4 linked regions of the Homo sapiens genome follow. The protein of the gene in region 2 purifies or fractionates together with the protein of the main gene of each other region. This does not show direct contact. Each region holds a gene or a part of one and is shown on either strand. Other genes may lie near its edges.

Evidence for each region.
Region 1: the proteins of SPIN1 (region 2) and PAX3 purify together in Homo sapiens (affinity purification with mass spectrometry; 3 studies listed by BioGRID and IntAct, with this or other methods). This does not show direct contact.
Region 3: the proteins of SPIN1 (region 2) and TOPORS purify together in Homo sapiens (affinity purification with mass spectrometry; 4 studies listed by BioGRID and IntAct, with this or other methods). This does not show direct contact.
Region 4: the proteins of SPIN1 (region 2) and YRDC purify together in Homo sapiens (affinity purification with mass spectrometry; 3 studies listed by BioGRID and IntAct, with this or other methods). This does not show direct contact.

The regions. Positions count from the first base shown.
Region 1 is NC_000002.12:222,218,982-222,226,015, forward strand, and holds part of PAX3 (paired box protein Pax-3), read right to left. Parts: intron 6,440-7,034; exon of another isoform or gene 2,407-6,439; coding exon 2,241-2,406; exon of another isoform or gene 2,105-2,240; intron 1,572-2,104; exon of another isoform or gene 1,415-1,571; intron 1,374-1,414; coding exon 1,159-1,373; intron 1-1,158. UniProt on the Homo sapiens protein: Transcription factor that may regulate cell proliferation, migration and apoptosis. Involved in neural development and myogenesis. Transcriptional activator of MITF, acting synergistically with SOX10.
Region 2 is NC_000009.12:88,475,419-88,479,203, reverse strand, and holds the end of SPIN1 (spindlin-1), read right to left. Parts: 3' UTR 510-3,785; downstream 1-509. UniProt on the Homo sapiens protein: Chromatin reader that specifically recognizes and binds histone H3 both trimethylated at 'Lys-4' and 'Lys-9' (H3K4me3K9me3) and is involved in piRNA-mediated retrotransposon silencing during spermatogenesis.
Region 3 is NC_000009.12:32,549,555-32,557,137, forward strand, and holds the start of TOPORS (E3 ubiquitin-protein ligase Topors), read right to left. Parts: upstream 3,033-7,583; 5' UTR 2,926-3,032; coding exon of another isoform or gene 2,883-2,925; coding exon 2,880-2,882; exon of another isoform or gene 2,680-2,879; intron 2,254-2,679; exon of another isoform or gene 1,590-2,253; intron 1,415-1,589; coding exon 1,220-1,414; intron 1-1,219. Other genes in the region: SMIM27 (small integral membrane protein 27), read left to right, coding at 2,881-2,925, 3,247-3,369; NDUFB6 (NADH dehydrogenase [ubiquinone] 1 beta subcomplex subunit 6), read right to left, coding at 4,322-4,390. UniProt on the Homo sapiens protein: Functions as an E3 ubiquitin-protein ligase and as an E3 SUMO1-protein ligase. Probable tumor suppressor involved in cell growth, cell proliferation and apoptosis that regulates p53/TP53 stability through ubiquitin-dependent degradation.
Region 4 is NC_000001.11:37,805,181-37,812,102, forward strand, and holds the start of YRDC (threonylcarbamoyl-AMP synthase precursor), read right to left. Parts: upstream 3,029-6,922; 5' UTR 3,001-3,028; coding exon 2,612-3,000; exon of another isoform or gene 2,610-2,611; intron 2,036-2,609; coding exon 1,921-2,035; intron 1,797-1,920; coding exon 1,677-1,796; intron 1-1,676. Other genes in the region: uncharacterized protein C1orf122, read left to right, coding at 3,225-3,259, 3,351-3,552, 3,798-3,893. UniProt on the Homo sapiens protein: Cytoplasmic and mitochondrial threonylcarbamoyl-AMP synthase required for the formation of a threonylcarbamoyl group on adenosine at position 37 (t(6)A37) in tRNAs that read codons beginning with adenine.

The sequences.
Region 1 (7,034 bases), on a different chromosome or scaffold from region 2:
ACTGTCTTGCAGAGCCCAGGAATTCCACTCCCAAGACACACACCACAAGTTGAAGAAAACGAAGAGGCAAAGATATACGAGTCGTTATTTTGGCCACCCTTTGTGCCATTAAAATCTCATTTTCTGCCTATTAGAATGCCCTCTTGGTGCTTAGGCAGCGGTGATAGTCAGTGATTAGTGTGTAATTGAGTATAATTGTCTTTTCACTTTTCATTTGTGTCATTCTGAGCTTCTCTCTGTTTTTCTAACCACCAAGAGGAAAAAGGGGGTTGAGAACAGATAAAGCTGTTCAAACTCTCTGAAGAGATTCTCGATTGCAATTATAGATTGCAACCCCTTGTGACATTTCTCCAAATTTAGTGGGCAGCTATCCTTGCCACCTGGGCCAAGCACTCTCTAATAAAATCAAGGGATCTGTATTTAAACAACTGCTAATAATGTCAACCTCAGACAGATGCCACATGTAGGAAATTTAACCAACCCTCTCACATGCAATTATCAAGGCAATTTATTAATGTGATCTCCTAAGAAAAGCTCATAGTCCAATGCAAATTAGAAAAACAATTACAACATTCAAATATTTATATAGTCCCAAAGAGCAGTAATTCCCCTAATTTGTGCATTTATAACTCGTTTATTCCAGAGTTCGTAGTCATCAGCTGGGTCTCTCTCCACAGGACTTGTTTGCTTCCTCTCTGATTGTTTTGTCAAAGCTTTAGTGTTTTCTTATGAGGTGCTTTTGATTGAAACCTCATCAATTTAAAACCTTATCAATTGATTGAAACCTTATCAATTTTAAATACAATTTAAAACAAAAAAACAAAACAAAAAACCTGCCACTGTTTGCAAGCTTCTTAACCAAAGCCCAGAACTAGGATGGAGAAGACAAAACATGGCAAACACCTTCACAGCTAAATATGAACACAAAGTCTCCAAGATTATATCAAAAATCACTTGAATTTTAAGTCTAAGCTACAACTTTTGATGAAGCCAGTAGGAAGGGTGGAGAGAAAGGAAACCAGAAAACTGAAATCATGTGGCTTCTATAAAGAATACATTATGGTTTAAATTTGGCAATTCATTACACTACTGCCTCAGGGAATTGAATATTTGGTTCTGGTATACAGCAAATCGTCTGTCTAGAAACACGGGACTGACCTGAGGTGAGAGGCCATTGCCAATGGTGGGGTTCATGGGGTTGGAGGGCCCCGACGGAGGCACAAAGCTGTCTGTATAGCTGGAAAATCCATGCCTGGTGCTGGGGAGGCAGTAGGCAGAGCTGCTGTCTGGGTTGGAAGGAATCGTGCTTTGGTGTACAGTGCTTGGAGGAAGCGGTTGAGGTCTGTGAACGGTGCTGCTGGGATCTGACACAGCTGAAATGAAAAAGATTGTCAACCATCATGTTTTCTTTTAGGCCAGCAGAGAAAGTTCAGTGCAAAAGTTCATCAGCCACCAGGCCATCAGGAGCATCTATTGATCAAATCAAATGTTCACTTCAAACTGCGTTTCTTAACCTGCAGGTGTAGAATCACCCATAACAGATACAGTCACACCTATCTCTGCACATACTTGTAAGTAACATATATACTCTCACGGCAGGCTCACCCAGAATACTAATGCAGAAATCATATTAGCAATGCTAACAAGCATATTTTGGTAGTGAATGTTATTCATCAATATGAGAATTAACCAATATAAGGACTGCAAGTCTCAAATTTCTTATCAAATATACTTTTAAAGCACCTAAATATTTGTGTAATAATATAGTTTCAAATGCCTGGAATGTTCTTTCATAATCCAAAATAATCGGATCTTACAATTTAACATTATCCCATTCACCTCTGTGTGCTAACAAATAATGACTTTGTCAAAGCTTACCTTCCCTCTATTATTCCTACAGTTAGTAAGCATCATTGAATTCCAGTTAGTTGCAAACTGGAGTAAAACGTAGAGGTAAAATTTTAACAAAAGAAAAGCAAATCCCATGGTTATTTGGGAAGGTTAATTTGTTTTAAAATACTGCAATTGAATTATATTACAGCACAGTTTATCTAGAGATATTCTGATACATCATAGAACAAACTATGTTTCTGAAATGTGATAGGTACGTTCAGGACAACCTGATGTATTACAATTAACAACATGGTGTCAGTACTGCAGAAGGATTCACTTGTATAAAATATCCACCAGAGAAATCGCCTGGAAGTTACTTTCTAATCTCCTTGACTCTTCCTCGGTACCTTGTGGAATAGATGTGGGCTGGTAAGAGGTCTCCGACAGCTGGTACGTTGGCAAGGTCGGCATGGCAGTGGGAGGGAACCCCCCGGGAATGAGATGGTTGAAAGCCATCAGTTGATTGGCCCCAGCTTGCTTCCTCCATCTTGCACGGCGGTTGCTAAACCAGACCTATGGATTTAATTTAAAATTTAAGGATTTCACTGATGAAATAATAGTACATTCTTAATGAATTTTTTATGCTAAAACAGATTAGAGGCTTCTTACTGAAAGGGCAAATAGATGCAAGAGTTCTCTGCCTTCTGTGTTGTTTGGGCGAATTGTCAGGAGTAAAAGAAGAGTTTAGTGTCAAAGGTCAGTAGAGGGGCTTCAGGGACCCACCATGATCTTGCAACAACAGCCCCCATGAACCTTATGAGGACCATGGGCAGGAATCACTGAGCAGGAGTAGGAACAACAGGAACTCCCCTCCCTACCCTCAACATCCACCCACCTACGTGTAGACAGCCTTCTGGGGAGGATACATGAGCCTCTGTGACCCCTGCATGACGCATGTCCTAAATGTGGCCTTGCCTTTTACTCCAAGCCTTGTATTTTATATTCTTATTAGTCTGTCTCTGTATTTCTGTGGTCACTAGGGGTATAGCTTCTGGATGGTCATATAAATTGAACAGAGGATAAGTGGAGCCCTTTTTTCATCTCTTCCAAAATATGAAACATTGCACTGATCTCGGTGGAAATAAATGCCAAAGAGGTAAGTGTTTCAAGAAATGAAAGCCTTTTTTTATCTAAAATAATTCATTTGTGTCTTATTTATTTCAACAACAGCTTTAAGCTCCTAGAACACGCTGTGTCAAGCACTATGCTAACCAGGTACATTCAGAAAAGCCTGATACAATATAATAAAATGCCCTCAAATAATTCAAAGCCCAAGTATTTTGTATGAGTCAATGGAGAGAAAGGGCAGTCATGGCAGCAAGAAATGTAACTGAATATCTAAACTATTGAGAAATTGTGATATAAGGCCTTTCATGGGTCCTGTGCTCCTGCCCAACTCTTACATCTGCAAAGTTTAAATGTAGAACTTGGGGTGATTTTTCCACGGAGCACACATGATGTTTCCCCTAAAATGAGAGAGGATTTCTACCAACTAAAGATATTCTAATTCCTACATCAAAAGTTCATTGAAACTTTTTTTTTTTTTTTTGAGACAGTCTTGCTCTGTCGCCCAGTCTGGAGTGCAATGGCGGGATCTCAGTTCAACCCAACCTCCGCCTCCCAGGTTCAAGGGATTCTCTTGCCTCAGCCTCCCCAGTAGCTATGATTACAGGCACCCGCCACCATGCCCAGCTAATTTTTGTATTCTTAGTAGAGACGGGGTTTCACCATGTGGGTCTTGAACTCCTAAGCTCAGGTGATCCACCCGCCTCGACCTCCCAAAGTGCTGGGATTACAGGCGTGAGCCACCCATTGAAACTTAATATGGAGGAAAGCACTGTGTTTGGGGTTGGAAGGATATAAAGGGAATCAAGTAGGATCTCTGCACTCTGGTAGTTTGATGCCTTGTCCTCATGGGATTCACAGAGCAGTCAAGGAGACCAAAATAATTGCTCGCTAGAGGTAGAAACTTCACATTTGGAAGCACAGAGAATCAGGAAAACTCTAAAGTGGAAGCAAAAAGTTTCAGCTCATTTTAAAATTTGATTCTAATTTCGACGAGCGATCGCTTGAGATGGAAGTGACATCCATCCTGTCCTACAGGGCAGGCAGATGCAGCTTGTTACAGGAGGCCAGCTTAAGAGAAGATGAGAATTGATTTCCTTACAGAGCAATGTTAACAATTTTGCAACTTAATTGTAATTCTTAAAGTCAGATCATTTAAGAGCGGAGGAAAAGATTTTTCTGGAGAAGAAGCTCAATTTAATAAATCCTTTGCCGAGGGATTTGCTCAAACTTTTGGTACTCACCCAAGCATTTGTCTGAAAAGAGTTTTGTCTTCTCTCGCCATTGTTGCAAGATACTGGTAAGGAAAGCTGTTTGAACTTCCTCAAAACATCAACATTTAATACTCCTTAAGTTTCCAACAGGAAAACGAGGTAAGTTAATATTTTCCCATGTTGATACATAATTGAATTAGAGTTTTACTTAACTTAATAAATTGCCACCTGGGGTAATAGAACCATGAACAGCACTTAATTTCAGGTCTGCATTAACTGTGCTTTCTCACTGCCCCGGTCTGAGTGCCTGTTACCACGGCTCCCAAAGGCATCAGGGTAAGAAAATCATTTTCAAGAAAGTTCTGGGAACAAACTGTGTTAGCTTGGGGAGGCTGAAGGTGGGAAATTAGGGTCATGTTCATGCCTGAGTGCACTGTACCATAACACACACTGTGGTTGTAGTTTATATTATAATACGTCAAGACTAAGGAGGTACTCCCGGCTCAGATCAGGTAGTCCTCTGCAACTATCTAGACCAGCGATGTACAGTGCATCTCCAGCTTTATATTGCTGGGAGGAGAACTGGACTTCCAAAAGTTTTGATGTAACTTCACTCATGAAGATTTACTATGCTCAGTTCCACTGGTGAAACCCTTTATGAAGAACTCAGAAAGGTACGCTTCGGTTTTTGTCAGATTTGTTGGCAATCTCTCTGTGCCACCTGCCTTCTGTAACCTTTAGATAAGTAAACCCAGGAGTGGTGAAGCCTGATCTCTCCATCAATCTCAAGTTACTATTGACTCAAGGTTCATTCTAACTCCACCATAACCCAATTTTTAAAAACAAAAATGTCTTTGCTGAGATAATAAAGAAGAAACATCATGAGTTTCTACAAATACCTTCAAAAGACAGAATCCAAACAGAGTAAGAGTATAAGGGTTTGGGGGTTTGTTTTCATATTTTCTAAAATGATATAAATAGGTAACAAAGACATTGAGTAAACTCACCAGGAGTTGGATTAAAAAGTCCTTATATTTATTATACAGTATCTATTATATCCACAATAAAAAATGAAGAGAAATTGTTGTGAAGCAAATCTTTACTGAAAAACAAACCTTCAGCAAGAGGTTCAAGAGATTCCCAAAGGAAGGAATTTAAATGTTGTTTAAATTTAGGCTAAATAAATCCAGAGGGCTATTCCTAAGAGAACCAGGGCTTAGTGAGGACTGGCCTGCCTGTCTCTGGTCATTTAACCTGATTTTTTATCATCTTACCATTGCCAGCCTTCTGCATTTCCTAGAACCAGCTGAATTTGCCAAAAGAAGTATTAAAGGAAAAACACACTAACTTTGCAAATTAAGAACTGGTCTTTGCCTTCTTTATGTTTTGAAACTCAAAACAGACAAATTTTCTATTTTTAGTAGACTAAAAAGAGTACCCTAGAAATGACCTTTACTTTCAATACCTGAACGAACCAAGCGTAGTGATCCTAGGAGGCTGTTATCAGCCCACATTTAACTGAAATTTTCTTGATACTCCTAAGTCTTAGATAACTCTTTCAATATTGTATCACTAATTCCTAACATACAATCAATGAATAATCTGCAGAATGGCATGTGTGAGTGTATAACACTGAATAAATTCATCTAAAATATACATATTTATAACTTAGTAGTTACACTTTCTAGAAATTTCCCCTTGTTTTGAAAAGAATAGCAGTAGCAACAGAGGCAAACTGGCCTATGACTGATGTTCTAGGAGAGAACAGAAATTTACCACCCAATGTCTTTGCCAGTAGGGTGGAAAGAACAAGATTTACAAAGTTGGCTATACACCTTTAAATGAAATTATATGATCTACAATTCAATGTAATTTTACTATCCCCACACAAGATTACCTGGCCTTCCGCATCACACTTGGCATGTTAAGGAAGTGGGGGCAGGAGGCACAAATTTGTCAGTAACCTACTATACTATTAGACACAGTTAATTGTCTATCATTGCATGTATAATATTACATCAAAAGTCTCCCTCAAAGCAAGTTGTTATTTCATTTGATAAACTGCAGCCCGGTTCATTTTTATCTGCCGCCTGTACTTCCCAACTTGTATGTCTCTCTACTGAGTCCTTCCATAAAGCCATATTTCATGTCTTTGAAAAATGATCTTTACATGCATTTCTCTAGTAGTATAATGTCCAATGATTTTTTGAAACAAAATTTAAATTGGTTGAAAGAGCCCCATAACATCATGATAACTAGGAAAAAAAGATAATAATTAGAAAAGAAATTTTCATACTTTTTATGAGTAAGCAAACCAGTTTGTTCAGACTCTCAACATTACAAGTTGGCGGGTGGCGGGGAAACTAGTACTTTCTACAGTAAAGATACAACAATACATCTTATTCACATGTGTGCAATACAGACCAGGCAAAAGTTGAATCTCAGCTCCTCATTTATATTAATACTTCTGTGACCATGAACAATTTGCTTAATATCTGGGGGTCTCTGTTTTCCCATGTGCTAAACGGGGAATATAAAAACTACTTCACAAGATTGTTGTGACTATTAAAAATGCAATGCAATCTAAGCTTCTAAAAGAATACCAAGGAGATATTAAATGTTCAGTAAATGCTAGCTATTAAATAGAAAGTCTCACACTGACACTTCTATCTGAGAAAACCAAGAATTGAAGCTCTGTTTTGCTTCCTTCACTCTGTGGTGTCCAGCCAAAGCCTTTTGTGTCTGTGAGTAAACAGGAAAGTGCCCAGAAAACACCTCAAATAATTGAAAGCCGGTTTGACTTGAATGGAGGCTTAGGTCAAATTTGCTTCCAAGTTTCATGGATTAGTGCTAATTGTCCCT
Region 2 (3,785 bases):
GGTGTTAATATTAGGTTGGTGAAAAAGTAATTGCATTTTTTGCCATAAAAGCAGTGGCAAAACTGCTATTACTTTGCACCAGCCTATATTACTTTCATTTTTTTGTATCCTAGCATTGAGAAATAGTGATTTTTCACTATAGAATCCCATTGTTTATTATTTATGAGTAAAAGCATTATAAGAAATATTCAAAGCAAGAATACTTGTGAAAAGTATAAAATACCCATTATTTAATTATATTTAAAAGAATTTTTTTAAGTTTAAGATCTTGTAAGTTAAACTTTCTCAATGTCAAATTGCAAACTTCAATATTTAATATATGTGTGATATTGATGACTGCCTCCTCTTCTTTCAGGTATTATTGAATGTTATCAAATAAAAATTCTATTTCTTTCTATGCATATCTGACATTTACATGTGGTGAAAAGGTTACTTGGCCCAAAAAACTTTTCAGAATCAAGTTTAACACATCACATGTTGCTCATCAGCACAAACTTTACAGTCAGGAGTTGCACATAAAGGGTTTATTTTAAATGTTTTAAGGATAAGATAGAGTTACATCATAATTATAAAAATTACTTACAGAATTAACAGATTTATATTGTGTATACTTCTAAATGCAGAGAACAGGGAACTGTCTACACATTGTATAAAATAAAATTAAAATTAAAAATGAATTCAAGCTTGAAAGATGAGGTCATTTACCTAATTTTAAAATGTGAACACGAAGACCTCTGACCTATACACATTCATTCCAACTGCACTAATGATGGAAAAACACAAAGAGCGCAGCATTTCCAAGGAACCACAGACATTTCAACCATAATTATTTTGTTATAATAATTGTTCTGTTTTGTCTTTGGAGAACTTTCATTTTGTTAAGACAATCAGCTTAAGAGTGTTTTCAGGCACTACAATTTGTAACAATCGGAACAGTCTTCTAATGGGTCTACAGTGTTCAGAGATTGAAGCCCAATGCACTTCGTGGTTTGGCACATAAAACAATAAAAGAAATGAAATCTGGTTTAGAAGTAACTGTGATTTTTTTTTAAGAAAACACAGTCCCTTCAAATGCTGCATGACATTTACAACTGGAAAATCACCTTCTGTTGGCACTACATTTGCTTCACCAGTGCATTTTTATCCTAAAACCACTAAAACGGCACAGTAAGCAAATATACAGGAAACTGAAAACAAATAAAAATAAAGAAAACAAAAAAACCTAAATATCTTTAACATGCAATTTTAGTCAGTTACATTGAACATTCTACTTAGAATAGAGCATGCAAAAAAGGATGGTCTGCTTTTAAGATTTTTCTCTGAAGTTTTACGTGGCAGCCTGACATCACACACGCACGCACACACAATACAATAATACTAGAGCAGGTAAATGAGAAAGGCCGATAAATTTTATACATAGATTCATGTCTTGTATTGTCACAAGTCCCATGATACTTTTGGAAATTAATGTTGAATTCCTGGAACAAGGAACCAACATTCAGATACCAGAAAAATGCAAGCAATGCATGCAGATCTGACACATGAGCCTAAAATGAAGCCCAAGATACAAGGGCTTGGGAGCAGAATTAGTCATAGCGTCATTACATGTGGTGTAAGTCACCAAAAGAAAGACAGAATGGGGGAAAATGGGGAGAAAAAAAAACAAACCTTCCCTTTCCCTCAGCCCTAAAGGCAATAAATGAACAATGATTAAACTCATCGTCATCATCACCATCATCATGTTGCATTCATCTAGAAACTGGGAGACCATGTGGTATAAAAAAAGTCATTAAAGTTGCTTGCAGAAAAACCACAATGCAAGTCATTAAGTAATGCTAGAAATGTCTCAATTGACCCAACCCTCAAGATACTTCAAAATGTACTTTATTTTTCCACGCAAAGTTACCGAGCCAAGTTCTGCACAGTTGGTGCATGCTGGACACACTTGCAAACTCTTGCGCTGTAATGTCAGTCTGGACTCTGGGAGCCAGGCTCAGCTTTGAGATTTACATGCAGGGACTCTTAAGAGTCAACAGGAAAACACATAACAGATCTGTAGAATGACACCTGTTCACATACGAGAAGCACCTATGACTTGGGTATCACACTGCTTTCAGAAGCTTGTCCCTGGCTGCCCACAGTGAAGCACGAGGGACAGAGCGACTGCAGCTGTGGACAGAAAACTGAGGTACTGTGTTTACATGGTGAGTGGTCGTTACCATCCAACAGCACAAGGCACAAAAAATGGGCATCAAGCAAACCATGCATAACGAGGCCTGGAAACCATCAAGAACAGCCACAAAAGAGGTCACTCAGACCTCTGATTCAAACTTCTGGTGTTTGAGTGACAAGCATGCACGTTTAGGCTCTGCCCAAATATCAGGGAGGATTTCCAATCTCCACAAGAGACTGGTTTCACATATGGCCTTTCTCCTGGCTGTCAAACCACCAGGGTTCCTCCAAAACAAAATGAGAGCAGCTGTTTTGCTGATCAACCAATCACACTAGCAGTTCTATTTCAGTTTAAAACAACCTTGCAGGAATAAACCACATAAAGACTCCGTGGCTAAGGGCTGCTATTACTTACACCTACCAAGCGAACACAAACGGCTGGCTCTTCTATGGTAACGCTTCACTGGCATGCAAACCCCAAGGGGCCACTGAATGGAATGAATCCACATGAACAGCATACCTGGAGCAGGAACATGCACCCCACAAGAGGTGTCAGGAGACTAAGCTGCTGTTTGTCTAGACATTCTTTGTGAGGAAAAGCCAGGGGTAGGCAGGAAGGGGTGGGTTGAAAGTCTCTGACCATAATCATACATTAGCAATAATAGTAATAAAACTTTAAAAGTCCCAGAGAGCTTGTTAGAAGGCAACAATGCCACTCAAAACTTATACTTCCAATATAAAAGCATTGTATTCTTCCAGAAACTTAACCAAAAACACACAAACCAGTGATGGATTGTTGCCTTTTAAATCCATGTACTGAAATCCAGATTACTGACTTGTACACAATGGACCATATGTGCTGTCCAAAATACACCTACATTACACTGTGTGGAACAAGAACCTGGGCTTTGCAAAAAAGAATTTATGATTAAAATGTAACCCCCCCCCAAAAAAAAATGAAGCTTAGAATTAAAGGTAGCCTTTTACCCAGATTGTTCACCAGATTGTAAAATTCTAATATGGGTCATTAACTGTTCACAAATAATTCATATTTGGACTTATGGTTTAAGGGCTCCAGATTGAAAAGGTGCTCTGAACTTCTGATTTTTTTTTTTTAAACAAGCTGAATGTTCCCATATGGTTCCTGTGCCCAAAGTTTACTTTTAAATAAAGAGCAGTGATATCATATCCATGACTGACTTGGGTAAAGCACTCCTGTTAAACTCAAGAAAATTATGTCACCCCCATCCTAATCCACAAAGACTGCCAGTGGGGTGTGTGTGGTGTGTGGTGTGTGTGTGTACACTTGTATCTGTGTGTATATATTATATATGTATACACACATATAGATATAGGTAGATACAGATACATACATCTCAAAAAAGGCAATAACGAAAACATCAAACTATGCTTGCATTGTGGCGGCAGAATAAGAGAGTTAGGGTGAGGGGGAAAATGGTTAAGATCTATTACAATTTTAAATGACTATGATACTAGCTTAACTTTTACCAAACTTGCCTGTAACTCCCCTCGAAATAGACAGACTTCTTTTAAAAGAAAGGGGTTCTCCTTACACAAAATGCTTTGTGTTCACATCAATCTGTACTATTCAG
Region 3 (7,583 bases), about 56 Mb from region 2:
CACAGTGCTTGATGCACAGTAAGAACTCAACAATGTTCTCTATGTTACGTGAACACGAAGTGAATTTCGGTAGCTCATCACCCATAACTGATTATATGGGTCCAGACAGAGGATAGTTTATAACAACAAAATAATCATCATACTTAATATAATTATTATACTTAATATTTCTAGGCAAAGTGACTAAAAAGGGTTCACGAATAGATGAAATAGAAAGATCACCCAAGTATTAAAAATAAACTGGTTCCTACCTCTTGCCACCTTAAAGAAATCACTGTACCTCTCTGAACTGCATTTAATCAACTCCAAAAGAAGATACAAAAGTCACAGGATCTCAGTAGATCCTATCAAATTTATCCAGATCCTATCAAATTTAATCCAATTCCAGCAAAAAGAATTGGCTGGGAACCGTTCGCCTCTAAAACCACTCATTCCAGACAAGTATGATTGATTTTAGCTGATTGTATAGCTTTCTTTGCATTTCATGGACAAAACCCAGAAAGCTCTCACCACTATTAACTTAAATCTTGGGCAGCTGTTTCTTAATTTATCTTAAATAATCTTGAAAATTACCTATCAAAAGGTCTACTCCGTTTTCCTCTTAAATCACTATGTGGCTCATCTCAGCACTGCCCCCTTCCAGCCTACAATCAGCAACCCATGAGGAAAGCTGCAGTAAATGGATGGATGAACAAGTCACGGGCAATTTCTGCTCAGAATGTTTAACACAACACAGACAAGTCCCAACTCCCAAAGCCACGGTGATAGTCGTTTACTTTGGTTCAGAACTGCCACTAGACTAAGATAAGCACCATGAGCATTACATAACCACAACGAACTTAAATATTGTTATTCCCATTTTACAGACAGGCTCAGGGATTTAAGGGACCTAGGCAAGGTCACATATCCTGTAAGTGGTGACGCCACGATTCAGTCTCATTGCTTTTTTGCTTTTCCCTGAGACCAAGCTCTTTCCAGTACACGGCCAGGCTCGCGCCCCTCGGGAGCGCTTGTGGGAAGCGCAACCCTCGCCTGCCCGCACCAATCCACAGGTGCGCGCAGGAGCCGCTCGGGGGCCCTGGCCCTGGCCCGCCGAGGCCCGGACAGCCCCGCAGGCCATGACCGCAACCCTCGGGTCCCGAGGCGCCGCTCCAGGCGGGAGCGCCAACTCCCACGGCCCTTCCGACCCCCGCGTCCCATTGTTCCGAATCTCACTCACCTCGGAGGATGCCGGCGCAGGCCTGGCTGGGGCGCTCGCCGCGAGCTCCCGGCAGCCCAGAAAGCTAGGTCGGTGTCGGCAGGATCCGCGAAGGCGTACCCGGCGACTTCTCCGCCTACCCTCCGAAGCGGGAGCAGGCGGGGGCGCTTCACCCTCCTCGCGAGACAGCGGAGACCCCAGCGGCGGCTGCGACCCCTGTGACGCAAAGGGCTCATCACCAATGGCAGCTCGGAAGCAGGGCAGAGAGCGAGACCCACCCCCCAGCTCCCGCGCATCAAAACACAACACCCGCCTTCCTCACGCATGCGCAGCAGATGGACGCCGGCCTCGGGGGCGGGGCTCAGCGCACCGGCCCAAATGCGGCCCCTCCCCCGCCGCTCCAGACCCCGGAGGAGGGCAGCGCGACCCTCCCCATCTTGTTACTGGTACTCAGCCACTGGGGACACTGACTGAATGTTCGCCCCTAACTTACCCGGAAAACACGAGAACTAGTTCGATGTCGTTTCAACCTTACCAAACTCTGCGGAAACTTAGGAAATTATCTTTAGTGTCTAGATAGGGGAATTGTTAGATGGACTTGAAGTCTCTCACCTCCTGTTGTACGCCTCCCGGAAGCAACACCAGGAGTCCAACGGGATCCCAAACCAGAGCCCAACCAGTATCCTATAAAGTCTTCAGAGAGGGATCCCCTCCAGGCTGGGGAGAAACAGGACAACCTAACAAAACAGGGCCTGGACTCCTCCCTAAACAGACCACGTTTTTCTCCGCTCTTCCCCTTCCCACTCCCTGAAATCTAGACTAAAACTCTTTTAAGATAACTGCGAGGTATAAAGAACGTCTAGAGCCTAAGCGGCCCGTTGCCAGATTCTACTCCTCAGGCCTCAAATGTGAGCGCCCCAAACATTCTAGAGCTGAACCTGGTACGCTCGCCCACCAAACTGCCGTGCTCGGGGCTTAGTATCTCACGCGCGGCAGTTCAAGAACATCAGACACGCTCAACAAACACTTGTTGCTTGACTGATACATTATGGCGGGTAACGCGTCCCACGTATTTCTTCTTAGAGATATACATTACGCTATACGTTTCTGAAGAATGGCTCGATTTACAGGGGTTCCCACAACGATTTGTCACATATAAAAGAGTGGGTGGTATTTTTACGTCAAAGATGAACAGGCGAACGTCCATCTAAATCGTGTGGTATCAGATGCGGGGAGGCGTGGGGGAGGGAGCGGGGGAGAAAGCGTTAATTCTTCCAGCTTTAGAGCCAGACGTAATATTTAAAACGTGGATTGTTTTTCAAATTAACTTTTAAATGGACACGACAGCACCTTATCCTGCATTAATATTGCATTGCAACTAGAAAGAAAACCAGTGGAGGTACGCCTATCTCCTTAGTTGGCAAAAAAAAAAAAAAAAAAGCAATTTTTAACATTTTCTCGTTTATTCCCCTCTCTAAAAGGCGGGCAAGGCCCCCGATCACGTGATACCGCCCCCCAACTCCGGGCGGAAGAGGCCAGCGACAGCGCTGCACGAAGCGAGTGGGCGGGCGCTCGTGCCCGGCTAAAAGATGGCTGCTGGCGCCTGGCAGCCACCGCCTGGGAGGTTACTGTAAGGCCCGCAGCTCCCGCCAGCTCCCGCGGACTGCTGCCGCCTCCTTACCATGAAGCCAGTAAGTCGTCGCACGCTGGACTGGATTTATTCAGTGGTAAGTCCCGGGGATCGCGGGCCCCCACCGTGTCGACTCACTGGGCCCGCAGGCGGAAAGGCCCTATTTCTTCAGCACCCAGAAACTCCAAAATCCATTCCTGAATTAAGCATTTCACTCCCTCACCTCGACTCCGCCTCTTCCTGGAGGATACGATCTTCCGCTTCTTACGTAAGGGCTGCTGGGTGTACCCGCCACTGGAACCCCATTTATTCGACTTTGTTACTTTAATTCCCACCTTAGCAATGGCAACGGTAACCTGACGGGGGCGAGGGGAAATATCAGGTAGATTTCACACCTCCTTTGCGATTTTTGGTTTAGTTGCTGCTTGCCATCGTTTTAATCTCCTGGGGCTGCATCATCTATGCTTCGATGGTGTCTGCAAGACGACAGCTAAGGAAGAAATACCCAGACAAAATCTTTGGGACGAATGAAAATTTGTAACTCTTCTGGATTTAATTATCTGAAAATACAGTTCTTTCCCTCATGCTTATGTAGATATAAAAATAAAATTCATAATGCAAAGTTCCCAAGTTTATTTTTGCATTATCCTTTATAACAAGCACTAGTATGCAAATTTTTCACTTAGAGATTTTAGTATTTTACATTCTCATGACAAAATTAACAGCAACCTAAATCTGACAGTCTTGAGTGTCAGATCATAGTTGGAATAAGCTTTTCAATCAAGTTTCTAAATTCTTCAAAAATGATTCGGAAAGCTTTTTTTTTTTTTGAGACGGAGTCTTGCTCTGTCGCCCAGGCTCAGTGGCACTATCTCGGCTTACTGCAAGCTCCGCCTTCTGGGTTCACACCAATCTCGTGCCTCAGCCTCCGCAGTAGCTGGGACTACAGGAGCCCGCCACCACGCCCGGCTAATTTTTTTGTATTTTTAGTAGGGACGGGGTTTCACTGTGTTAGCCATGATGGTCTCGATCTCCTGACTTCGTGATCTGCCCGCCTCGGCCTCCCAAAGTGCTGGGATTACAGGCATGAGCCACTGCGCCTGGCCGGAAAGATTTCCTTAAAACAAAAGTGCATGGAATTGCTGTTCTTACATTTGTTTATTGTGATATTTCACTGTTGCATACCCTGATACCAAATTAGTGTAAGTACTGTGTAAGAAAAAAACAAACAAACATGTAACTAAATACTTTTCCATACCGTTTTCCAAGTCAAGAATGACCAGAAAAAGTAGGTAGTCTCTCATATTTGTTTAGCATGTCCACTTTTTACTTATTGTTAAATTACTCAGTCTCAAATTGTACAATGCTTGAAAACAGATATGACAATTTCTGAGATTAAACTTTATTAAAGTTACTTTTCCAGAAAATTCAGTAAATATGGTAATATAGGAACAAACTTAGGCTCATAAGCCTTTTAACTTTTTACATAATCTTTAATGATGTTGATCAGGAAATTCTTTCATTGGTGGAATTACTTCTCCAGTCTCCAGAATTGTATCACCCTAGGAAAACAAAGATACAGTTAGTACAAAAATCTTAAGTCTACAGAGGTGATAGTTCTATTCTGTTCTATGTTCATCAGATCTCACATGGAAAATGTACTTGAGTTCTGGCATTCCCTTTAAAAGGACCCTAGACAAAGTAGAAGCTGACTAAATCTGAACAATCAGTATTCAAAATTTTAAGGTATAGTGAAATAATAGGGAAATTTTCACTCAGAAACAAAATAATCAAAAAGGGCACGAAAATTGTGTTCTCTAAGTGATAAAGGGATAATCTTTTATTTTGTATGACCCCAATAAATGGAGGCCCCAGAAAGAAGTTGCAAGGAAACATCTGCAGTTCCAGATAAGGAGGTAATGTACCCCCAGCAACTGAATGTGTTACGCAATCACCAGTTTTCTGATTGGCTTACATACTGAATACAGAATACAAACTTTGGCTAGGCAGCTGGTCCAGATGTCTTTTCAATTCTTGATATAGATGTGGGCAAAAAGGCATGGGCATTGAAGCCAGAACCAAGTGGTAAGAATCTTGGAACCTCCACTGACAAGCTGTATAGTTTTAAGACAGATTATTCAATTTCAGTTTCAGCCATGTGTTTAAGATAGATTCTGTTAGCCTGCCAGTCCCTGAATGACTGGGAAGAGTAGAATTGTCCCCATACCCACCCCAATCCCTGCCATTCCCTGACCTGGTACTGCTCAGGATTATAGTCCAATGAAAAAATAAATATGTTTATGCCATTATACATTTGGGCAACAATTTGTTAGTACAGCTAGCATTATCCCAATAGAAATCATTGCCTTGAAGTGGCACTAATGCTGCTGTAATAAAAATCAAGCTATAGGGCACTGGCTTAGCAGTCTGGTAGCAAAGATAAAGATGGAAACAAAAGGCAGTGGCAAACTATTTAGCAAAATATCTCCTATAACTTGGAAGCTGACTGCCTAATGAACTTGAGGTTCTAGAAGAAGTAGCTGGGAAAAAAAGTTATAGTATGTGTTTGGATCCTTGGGATCCTTGGATGCCTTGGGAATGTACTTTAAGAAGCATGAGCTCAGGCAAAAAGTGGCTGATTTGAGAGGCGACATAAAAATGGAGAGGACGAGAGAACACTTTGGTGCACGCTAGAGACTTTCTGTTCCTGACCAAAAAAAAAAAAAGTTAATAGAATCTAAAAATTTGGGCCAGTCATGGTGGCTCATGCCTGTAATCCCAGCACTTTGGGAGTCCAAGGCAGGAGGATTGCTTGAGGCCCAGAGTTCAAAACCAGCCTGAGCAAGAGTAGGACCCTGTATCTAAAAAATAAATAAAAAATCAGGACCTTGTGGTATTGAAAAATCACACTACTTCAGAATTCCTAAACAATAAGTTAACACAAGAAATCTGAGCAACAGAAGCCCAATAAAACTCAAACAGAGGGACACAGCCCTATGGCAAAGATCAGTTTAAAATGAAGGTAGCCTTTGAACCAGTCTGCCTCAGATGGCCTCCACATAGCTGCCACAGAGGTGAGAGAGGCAGATGCATAAGGACAAAGAAATGAGACAAGCTGGTAACTGTGTATAGGAAAAACAGATACTGGCATGAGACACTGACTAGAAGTAAACACATTAGATGTCTACCAAATATTTTTCTTTTCATGCTTCTAAATGTTAAGGGAAATGGATGGACAAACCAAACATATAGTTTACAGAATCCTGCCAGAATGTTTGAAATTAAAACAACCTCTGGCATTCAACCTCCTGCAAGCAGGTGGCAGATTCTGAAGCCCATACAGCCCCCTAAGGAGGGCATGCTTCCCAATACCATTTAGATGTGGTCTAGGTAGATAATGAAAAGAACAAACCCCCTGGACAGAGCCAGGAACCAGGAAGAACGATGGATAAAGGTGTTCTTTCAAGAAAACAAAATCAGTGCCCATTCAAGTAATTTCTCACACACGGGTTAGGAGTGAGATTTCAGGATTGCCAAGAACCAGTGACTACTATGCTATCCAAATTCTACCACTGAACAATGGGTGTGGTTGGGGGACAAGGATACAGTTAACTTGTCTTCTTAGTTCACTGATCCTCAGATCAACAGAAGTCATATATAAACCTGACATACTATTTTACATCATCTGGAGATCATGGATTTGGGGCCGGGGTGCAATGATGGAATGGGACTTTGGGATTTCTCCCTAAGGAGAGAGACTAAGTGTGTTATGCATGGGTAAAGAAAGAAGCCAAGAGCTGTTTGGTGACTAGAAAGATGGAATGTAGCAGAAACTCCATGAACAGGGGTCTGGGAAATAGCAAAGAGCACACAGATAATATTTGGGAAGATGACAGTGAGTTTTAGCTAACAGAATTTGAGCAGAAGTGATGTAAGCTACTTCTAAGCTTAGATCCTAAAAATCATCCCCTGAGACATCCTGCCGTATCTTTGTATCACAATCTTGGAACCTCATATTCGATAGGCACGGCTGTAAGATTGAGGAAGATCACCTGATTCACAGTAGTCTGTGATGTCAACAAGAAATAAACCTCTGTTTTGTTAAGCCATTGAGATTTGGAAGTTTGTTATTACTTGTCCTATTCTAAACATATATACAATGAGCATTCTTCAGTTCCTCAAAGGGGTCATGGCACAGAAACAAGAAAGAACCACAGTGGCAAAAAATACAGAAATATGAGAAATGCTACAGGATCCCTGATATGGTCTTCTGAATAGAGCTCTCCTTTTCCTTTGAACAGTAAATGGCAAAATAAATTAACATTTAAATGGAATAAATGGAAGACTAAATAAATATAAATTGCCCAGCTGGAAAAACCAGCAAGATAATTTCCTATTTTGAGACTACCTAGGCTGTAACACACATCAATGTTACACAATAAAACAAAAGGAGAAATCCCCTACTTTTTTTTTTTTTTTTTTTTTTTTTTGAGGCAGGGTGCTCTGTCGCTAAGGCTGGAGTGCAGTGGCGCAATCTTGGCTCACTGCAACCTCTGCCTCCCAGGTTCAGGCAATTCTTGTGCCTCAGCCTCCCCGGTAGCTAGGATTACAGGCGTGCACCACCATGCCCAGCTAATTTTTGTATTTTTATTAATAGTAGAGATGGAGTTTCACCATGTTGGCCAGGCTGGTCTCAAAATCCTGACCTCAGGTGATCCACCTGCCTCTGCCTCCCAAAGTGCTGGCATTACAGGT
Region 4 (6,922 bases), on a different chromosome or scaffold from region 2:
ACCCGGGAGATGGAGGTTGCAGTGAGCTGAGATGGTGCCACTGCACTCCAGCCTGGGCAAGAGAGTGAGACTGTCTCAAACAAAACAAAACAAAAAAAAACTAGGTAAAAATCTGGTCACTTAATGGCTGCGTAACCTGGAACAAGTGATTCCAGCTCCTTCTAGCTCTAGAACTATGCTCCTGGATCTCACTGCGACTCTGATCAGGGTAGGAAGAGTAGAACATGGTAGATTCTGCATGCCACCAGCACTCAGTCTTTGGGCTATGAGAAGGATACTCCCCCTAGAGCAGTGGACTGAATTGTTAACTGAGCTAGAGCTTCCCCAACCCCCCAAGGAAGACACTGCAGTGGCAGTTAGGCCTGGAAATCTGGGACAGGAAATCATAAATACCAGTTACTGTGTTGGACAGGTCAAATGATTGCTGACAAGGTAAAAACCTCCCCTCCCTGTGCCACATCCCGATTCTTGCTCCTGGGGTACAGCCACCAGGACCAAGTCAAACCTGCACTCTGAGAATGGGAAGGGATGCTGAACTCTCACTTTCTAAGAACCCTGAGCCCCACTCTAGGTCTGGGAATGGAAAACCCATCGAATGGAGTTCTGAGCAGGGATACGGGCTCTAACTCTGGACTTTCCATCGTATCTCTATGTGACTGCACGCAAGTTACTCTATCCAGGCTTATTAGCTGGATGTAATAAGCCCAAGGAAGGCCCAAGGCCTGATGCTGGATACTATGTGTGATACTATGTGTCTGGCCGAGTCTGGGGACACAATGTAGCTTATTACTACGTTTTACATCTTAGTAATAAGAAAAAAAACGAAATTTCTATGTGTCCTCCTTTGTTCTAATCTATGTAGCCAAGAAAGGATTAGGATGATCCTTTCTTTGATCTGGCTTGTGGCAGAGATAAGAGAACAGGGGCGAGAATCAAAAACTGGTTAAAAATCTGAGTCAGTCACTTAATGGCTGTGTGACCTGGAACAAGTGATTTAACTTTCTGGAGGCTAAACTTCATCTTTTTTTTTTTTTTTAAGAGACAGAGTCTCGCTCTAGAGCCCTGCCTGGAGTACAGTGGCACAATCTGAGCTCACTGTAACCTCTGCCTCCCAGGTTCAAGTGATTCTCCTGCCTCAGCCTCCCAAGTAGCTGGGATTACAGGCATGCGCCACCATGTCTGGCTAATCTTTGTATTTTTTATTAGAGATGGAGTTTTGCCATGTTAGCCAGGCTGGTCTCAAACTCCTGACCTCACATGATCCACCTGCTTGGGCCTCCCAAAGTGCTGGGGTCACAGGCATGAGCCACTGCCCTTGGCCTTCTTCATCTTTCTTTACAGCACTGTCGTGAAGATTTATAGCCTAACTGTGTTCTCCAGAAACTGTTATCTCCAGAAAAACAGGAAGACATTGTTCTTATAATCTTTCCTATTATTATAAAGACTGAAGAAAAGACCAATTCTCCCCCTGGCTTTTCAGACTTTGAGATAAAATCTTTCAAATTTTTTTAATTTATATTGCCCCCCACCACCTCCCTGCCAGCTGGGCAACCTTCCCACTGTTGGCCCAAGAACTCTCATGCCTGGCCATCCCAGTGTACTATCAATGCCACTGATTCACAGAAAACAGTATGTGCGCTGGTGACATTTCCAGGGGAAGGACTGGGTAAACTCACCTCGACATTCAGAGAACTGGCCTGGGAGCTGAGGTTGGCACTAGTGAGAGCAAGCGGACCCTCAAACATCTGAGCCAAGTCTTGCATAAAAGCATGATCAGGAATCCGAATGCCTACAAGCTGTAAGGCAAGGGGAAAGGGATCATGAGAAAGGTTGGAAGGGATAAGAGGGTAAGTCTTATCTGGATCCTAGTGAAAGCCAAGTGGCCTGGAGTCTGGGGACACAAGAGAAAACTTGACTCACAGGCGTAAAAGGGTTTAGGTCCTTGTTGAGCTCCTCCGAGCGTTCCATCACCAGGGTCACTGGTCCTGGCAGTAGGTCTTTCAGGAGCCCCTCAGGTACTCTCACACGGCAGTATCTGGGAAACACAGAAGAATAAATCCATTCAAAATTGAAGGGCCACTGGTGGTCCTTTCCTAGACTCTAGGCAGACGTAGAAAAGGAATCCTTCGAGTTTACAATGGGAGCCGCCTGTCTCCCTGCTTCACCTCCCTAAGAGCTTGAGCAGAAAGCAGGGCTCCAGAGGCGCACCCCTGGCTTGACGCCCATGTGCCTCTGGTCTCAGGGACTACAACAGCTGCACCGCTGTGATATCATGATAGTGGGATCAAGCTCCACGTTTTATTTTCTTCAAGGCATTCGCTATTAAATTAAGCTACTGTGTTTGTTTGCTTTTTTCCCGGGGGCCTCCCCAATTAGCACAAATACGCCAAGGGAACAGGGTCCCTGCCTTTCTCGTGTGTTGCTGCTTCCCAGCAGCATGTAGTTCAGGGCCCGGGGCACGTTAAGTCCTCGGTACATATTTCCAGTTCCGGATTCCTTGGTGAGCCTGGACAAGCCCCTCCCGCTCTCTGCGCCTCAGTCTCCCAAGCCTGTCACCGGAAACCCCTCCCGCGGTGCCGCCCCTAGCGGGGCCGGGTCGGGGCGGCCTTACCTGTAGACGTCGGCCACGCGGCCGAGGCATACGGCCAGAGGCTTGGCCTCGCTGCGACCCTTGAGGCGGTACACAGCGCGCAGAGCCGCCGAGCAGCTCGCCGCGCAGGCCAGGCCGTACAGCGTATCGGTGGGGACGGCCACCACGGCGCCGGCGCGCAGCTCGGCCACGGCGGCCCGCAGCGCCTCGGTCCAGCCGGCGCGCTCCGGGCTCGCGGCCTGCACGGCCCCGCTCCCCGGGAGCCGCAACAGCCGGGCGCCGGGGGCCGCCGGAGCGGGACTCGGCGGGCGGAAGAGGCGACCGCTCCGGGAGCCAGCAGGCCCCTCGCTCAACCCCACGCTGGCAGCCACCGCGGCCCTCATCCCCCTGCACCGACGCGCCGGAGACATCCGCCCAGGCCCGCTTCCGGGAGGAAGTGACGCTCCCAGCCAGCTTCCGGTCCAGGAGACTCGGCCCCGCCTCTGCGCCGGGCAGCTTAAAGGGACCACGACCCCCAGGAGGATTGAAGGAGACCGGTGGGGACGGGGCGGGGCGCAGCCTTGCGAAGCCCTAACGCAGCGCTGGGGAGGGGGGCGGCCGAAAGGGGGGCGGTGGTCGGGCCGCGCAAGCGGAGATGGAATGGGGCCCGGGCTCAGACTGGTCACGGGGGTGAGAGGGGGCCCGTCGGGGCGGGAGGAAGGGGCTTGGCCCCGCGCAAGCGCCGGCCCTGACCGTCTGTCTCTCGCTCTCTCCCGGGCAGGGAGGCTGCCGGCGTGGACCGCGGGAAGGCGGGGCTGGGGCTCGGCGGGAGGCCACCCCCACAGCCGCCCCGGGAGGAGCGCGCCCAGCAGCTGCTGGACGCGGTGGAGCAGCGGCAGCGGCAGCTCCTGGACACCATCGCAGCCTGCGAGGAGATGTTACGGCAGCTGGGCCGCCGGCGCCCGGAGCCGGCTGGTGGCGGGGTTAGTGCCCACCCTGGGCTGGGCTGGGGTGGGGTGGGGTCTGCCCACTGGCTAGGCTGGCCAAGCCCTAGCTTACCCTGGAGGGGGGAAGTATGTCTCCGCCGCTTTATCCCTAACCTCCTTTGATCTGGTGAGAGGTTTCGAAAAAGTTAATACTATCCAAATGCCAAATGGCCACATCCTTGTGGGGCCTAATCCAAGGCCTTGCCTCCCAGCCTCACTTTTTTCCTTTCTGTTCCAACTAGAACGTCTCAGCCAAACCTGGAGCGCCCCCCCAGCCGGCTGTCTCCGCCAGAGGCGGCTTTCCAAAGGATGCTGGCGATGGAGCTGCGGAGCCCTGACCATCCCCGAGCAGAATACCCTGACTTCTCTCCCTCCCCAGGGCCGGTGGCTGGACTCTGAACAACTCCCTTCAGTAAAGGGGCCAGTCTTCACTGGCAGTGGCTGGTACTTGGCTCTCAGCCTGGAGTGGCAGCTCTGCTAGCAGCTGGGTTCACTCCCACTTCATCCTGGCTGAAAGCAGTGCTGTGCTTTGAAATGCAGCCAATGAATACCCAGTCTGATTACCCAGATTTGGGCAGACCAGCAGTGCTCGCCAGAGTGGTCTGGCCTGCTATGGGGGATCCAGGTGGTGTTACATGTCCATTTCATGTTTTGGGGGCTTTTAGCCCCACAAAACACCTTCAGTAGAGCCTTGATTAAAAGGAAACCTGCAGACTCTCCTGGTGACCGACGTTTCCTTTCTGTCCCCTCTCCAAGACTGATGGCTGGGAAGGGGGGAGTGGTGGAAAAATGTCAACTATGGGCAGGGTTGGTAAGAAATGCCACAGATACTACCAGATTTAAATAAGCATTTAATTAGGATTTCATTAGTATTTAATATTGCTTTTTCAATTCCAAAAAGTTAAATTTTCACTTTTTAGCAGATATTTTAAAGTACAATATTAAGTTTATACAAAATGAGCAATTAAGCAAACACCATTATTTCACATTCTTCAAAAATACAAATTCATATTTATTCTTTTTTGGGTTTGGAGGTTTCTTCCTTTGGAAGTACTGAACCTGTAACGTTTTCACATCGCTCAGTGGAAGTCCGTTGTTCCCATGTTTCACACTTACTTTTACATAATCCAAATAAAACTATTTGGGATTTTAAAAGTTGTCACCAAGACCCCGGCCAATGATTAGTGTATGTCAAAAAAAAGGGCTCTTGGGGGCTCTTGCCTTTCCTGGCTAGAAGATCTGAGCCAGAAATTCAGCAAAAATCTGTTTCCAGCCACCCTCCCCAAATAGGGACTAGAAAGAGTTCACAGGAAAAGGGAACAGACACCTTGAACTCTGACCCCCACCCCCACATTCTCCAAAACACAACGAAGGATGTAGACTGTTGAGTCAAATAGCCCTTGGGAGGCCTGAGAACACAGCAGGAAAAGGGCAAGAGAAAGCCTCTGACTTGGCACACTACGAGGATAACAAGGATATTGCAAAAAACACCCCTGGGTTTTGGTGCAAAAAGGTTTTATGAAAAATTTTCCCATAAGAAAAAGTAGAAACTGCATTGAGCTGAGAAAGTGACACTACATTATCACCCAATTTTTGGCCCAACAGGCACACCACCAAAAGGGCAGTGTGTGGTTTTAAACCTCAATTCCAGTAAAAAAGCTTGTACTATGTACACATTGACATAAAGATCCAGTTTAATTTGCATTTTTCAGTGCAGACTGAGAAGCCCTCTCTTGAACAGGAGTAACAGTGAGAAATGCCCAGTGGTCGTCGGCTTCCCCAAAGGGCATCAGAAGAAATACAGGACTGTTTCCCTCTCTCCCTAAAAAACATGCAAGAGGAAACAGGCCAAAATGGCTAACCAATCAGAAATATGCTTCAGTTTTGTTGCCTCCACCCCCAAATATTAAGGAACAGACAATTTCTGATCTATGTCACAGCAGAACTATTTGCATATTGGATCTATGAAAATCCTTCTGCTTTGGCTGAAGTATATTCTAAAACTTGTCTATTCTATAGCCTGAGAATTGAAGATAAAATGGGGGAGGTGGAGTAAAGGAAGAAAGTTGATAATGATTCATGGGATGTAATGTTTGTTTATAGGATTTAATGAAGGCTGGAGGCCTTTTTGCTTAAGGAACCAACACAGGTAGTATGGGGAGCAGTATGGAAATGGCTCATGTTGCCCCCTGCCACCCATGCCTCCCCAAACATATTTCTGATTGGTGGTGTAAGACAATTGTAAACTCTTGAGAAATATTGTTGCAGTTCCACAAATCAATGGTTTCAATCACTCTGGAAAAGTCTTTAAGGACAATGGATGTGATTACAAATATAAAAGTCTAGAAGGTGCCAGGTTTCTACCTAGGAACAATCTGTTCCTTCCTTTCAGGCATCATTTTGTAATGGTGAAGAGGGAAAAGATGGCGAGAGACCAAGAAGTGATGAAAAAGGGCCTCAACAGTCAGCAGAAAACAGGACCCACAGCAGTTCTTCAGAGAGCCTGAGGGGGCGCCCTGGGGCACACAGGGAAGGCTTGCATAGATTGAGCGGTTGCTGAGAATGCATAATAGTGTTTCCCTATGGACAGTCTCACAGCACAGGGCTGATTGAGCGGAAAAACGCTGCCAGGCCAGGGCCACATGGGACAACGACCATCAAGCTACACATATTGCACCAAGGTAAGTGCTTTTCTTTTCACACCTCAATTTAACTTTTTATTCTGAGCAAAAAATAAAACTTTGTGGAAAGTATATATATGTATATATACACACAAAAGAAATTGCAGCAATCGGGTTAAAGATAAAATAACCTAAAGTGCTTTTTTATTTTATTATTTCTTTAATATACCAATATGAGGTTCTGCAAACTTGTCCCTCTGGACACATTCAGCATTATACAAAGTCTCTCAGGAAAACCCACCCACCCTCCAATATCCCCATCAGTCCACAGCCTTGACCCTGAAAATAAAACTCTCCGATCTACCAACTATCCCAGAGGTGAAGAAGAGAAGCCCCTTGCCTTTTACTCAGAGAGATCTTCACATCTTAAGGCCCCTCCTGGGCTTTGTACCATGATCTCCTTCTAAACGGAGGTGGAATTCAATAAATGACACCACTTCTGTCACCAAACTGGTGGTGCCCCCATGAGACTGGCCAGACCCTGCCAGCAAAGACTGGGCCACCTTCCCTCAATGCCCAACCTACCTGCCTGGGAAGGGCCAAGTTCACTAAGGCAGTTTGGTGGTGCCAGCCAGTTTCCTTACCACCTCCTAAGTCCATGAACCCCAATCCCTGGTGCTAAGCACCCTTTGAAGCGGTTGTCTAATTGGAGATGTTAGTAGGAGCTAGAAGATAACGTACAGGGT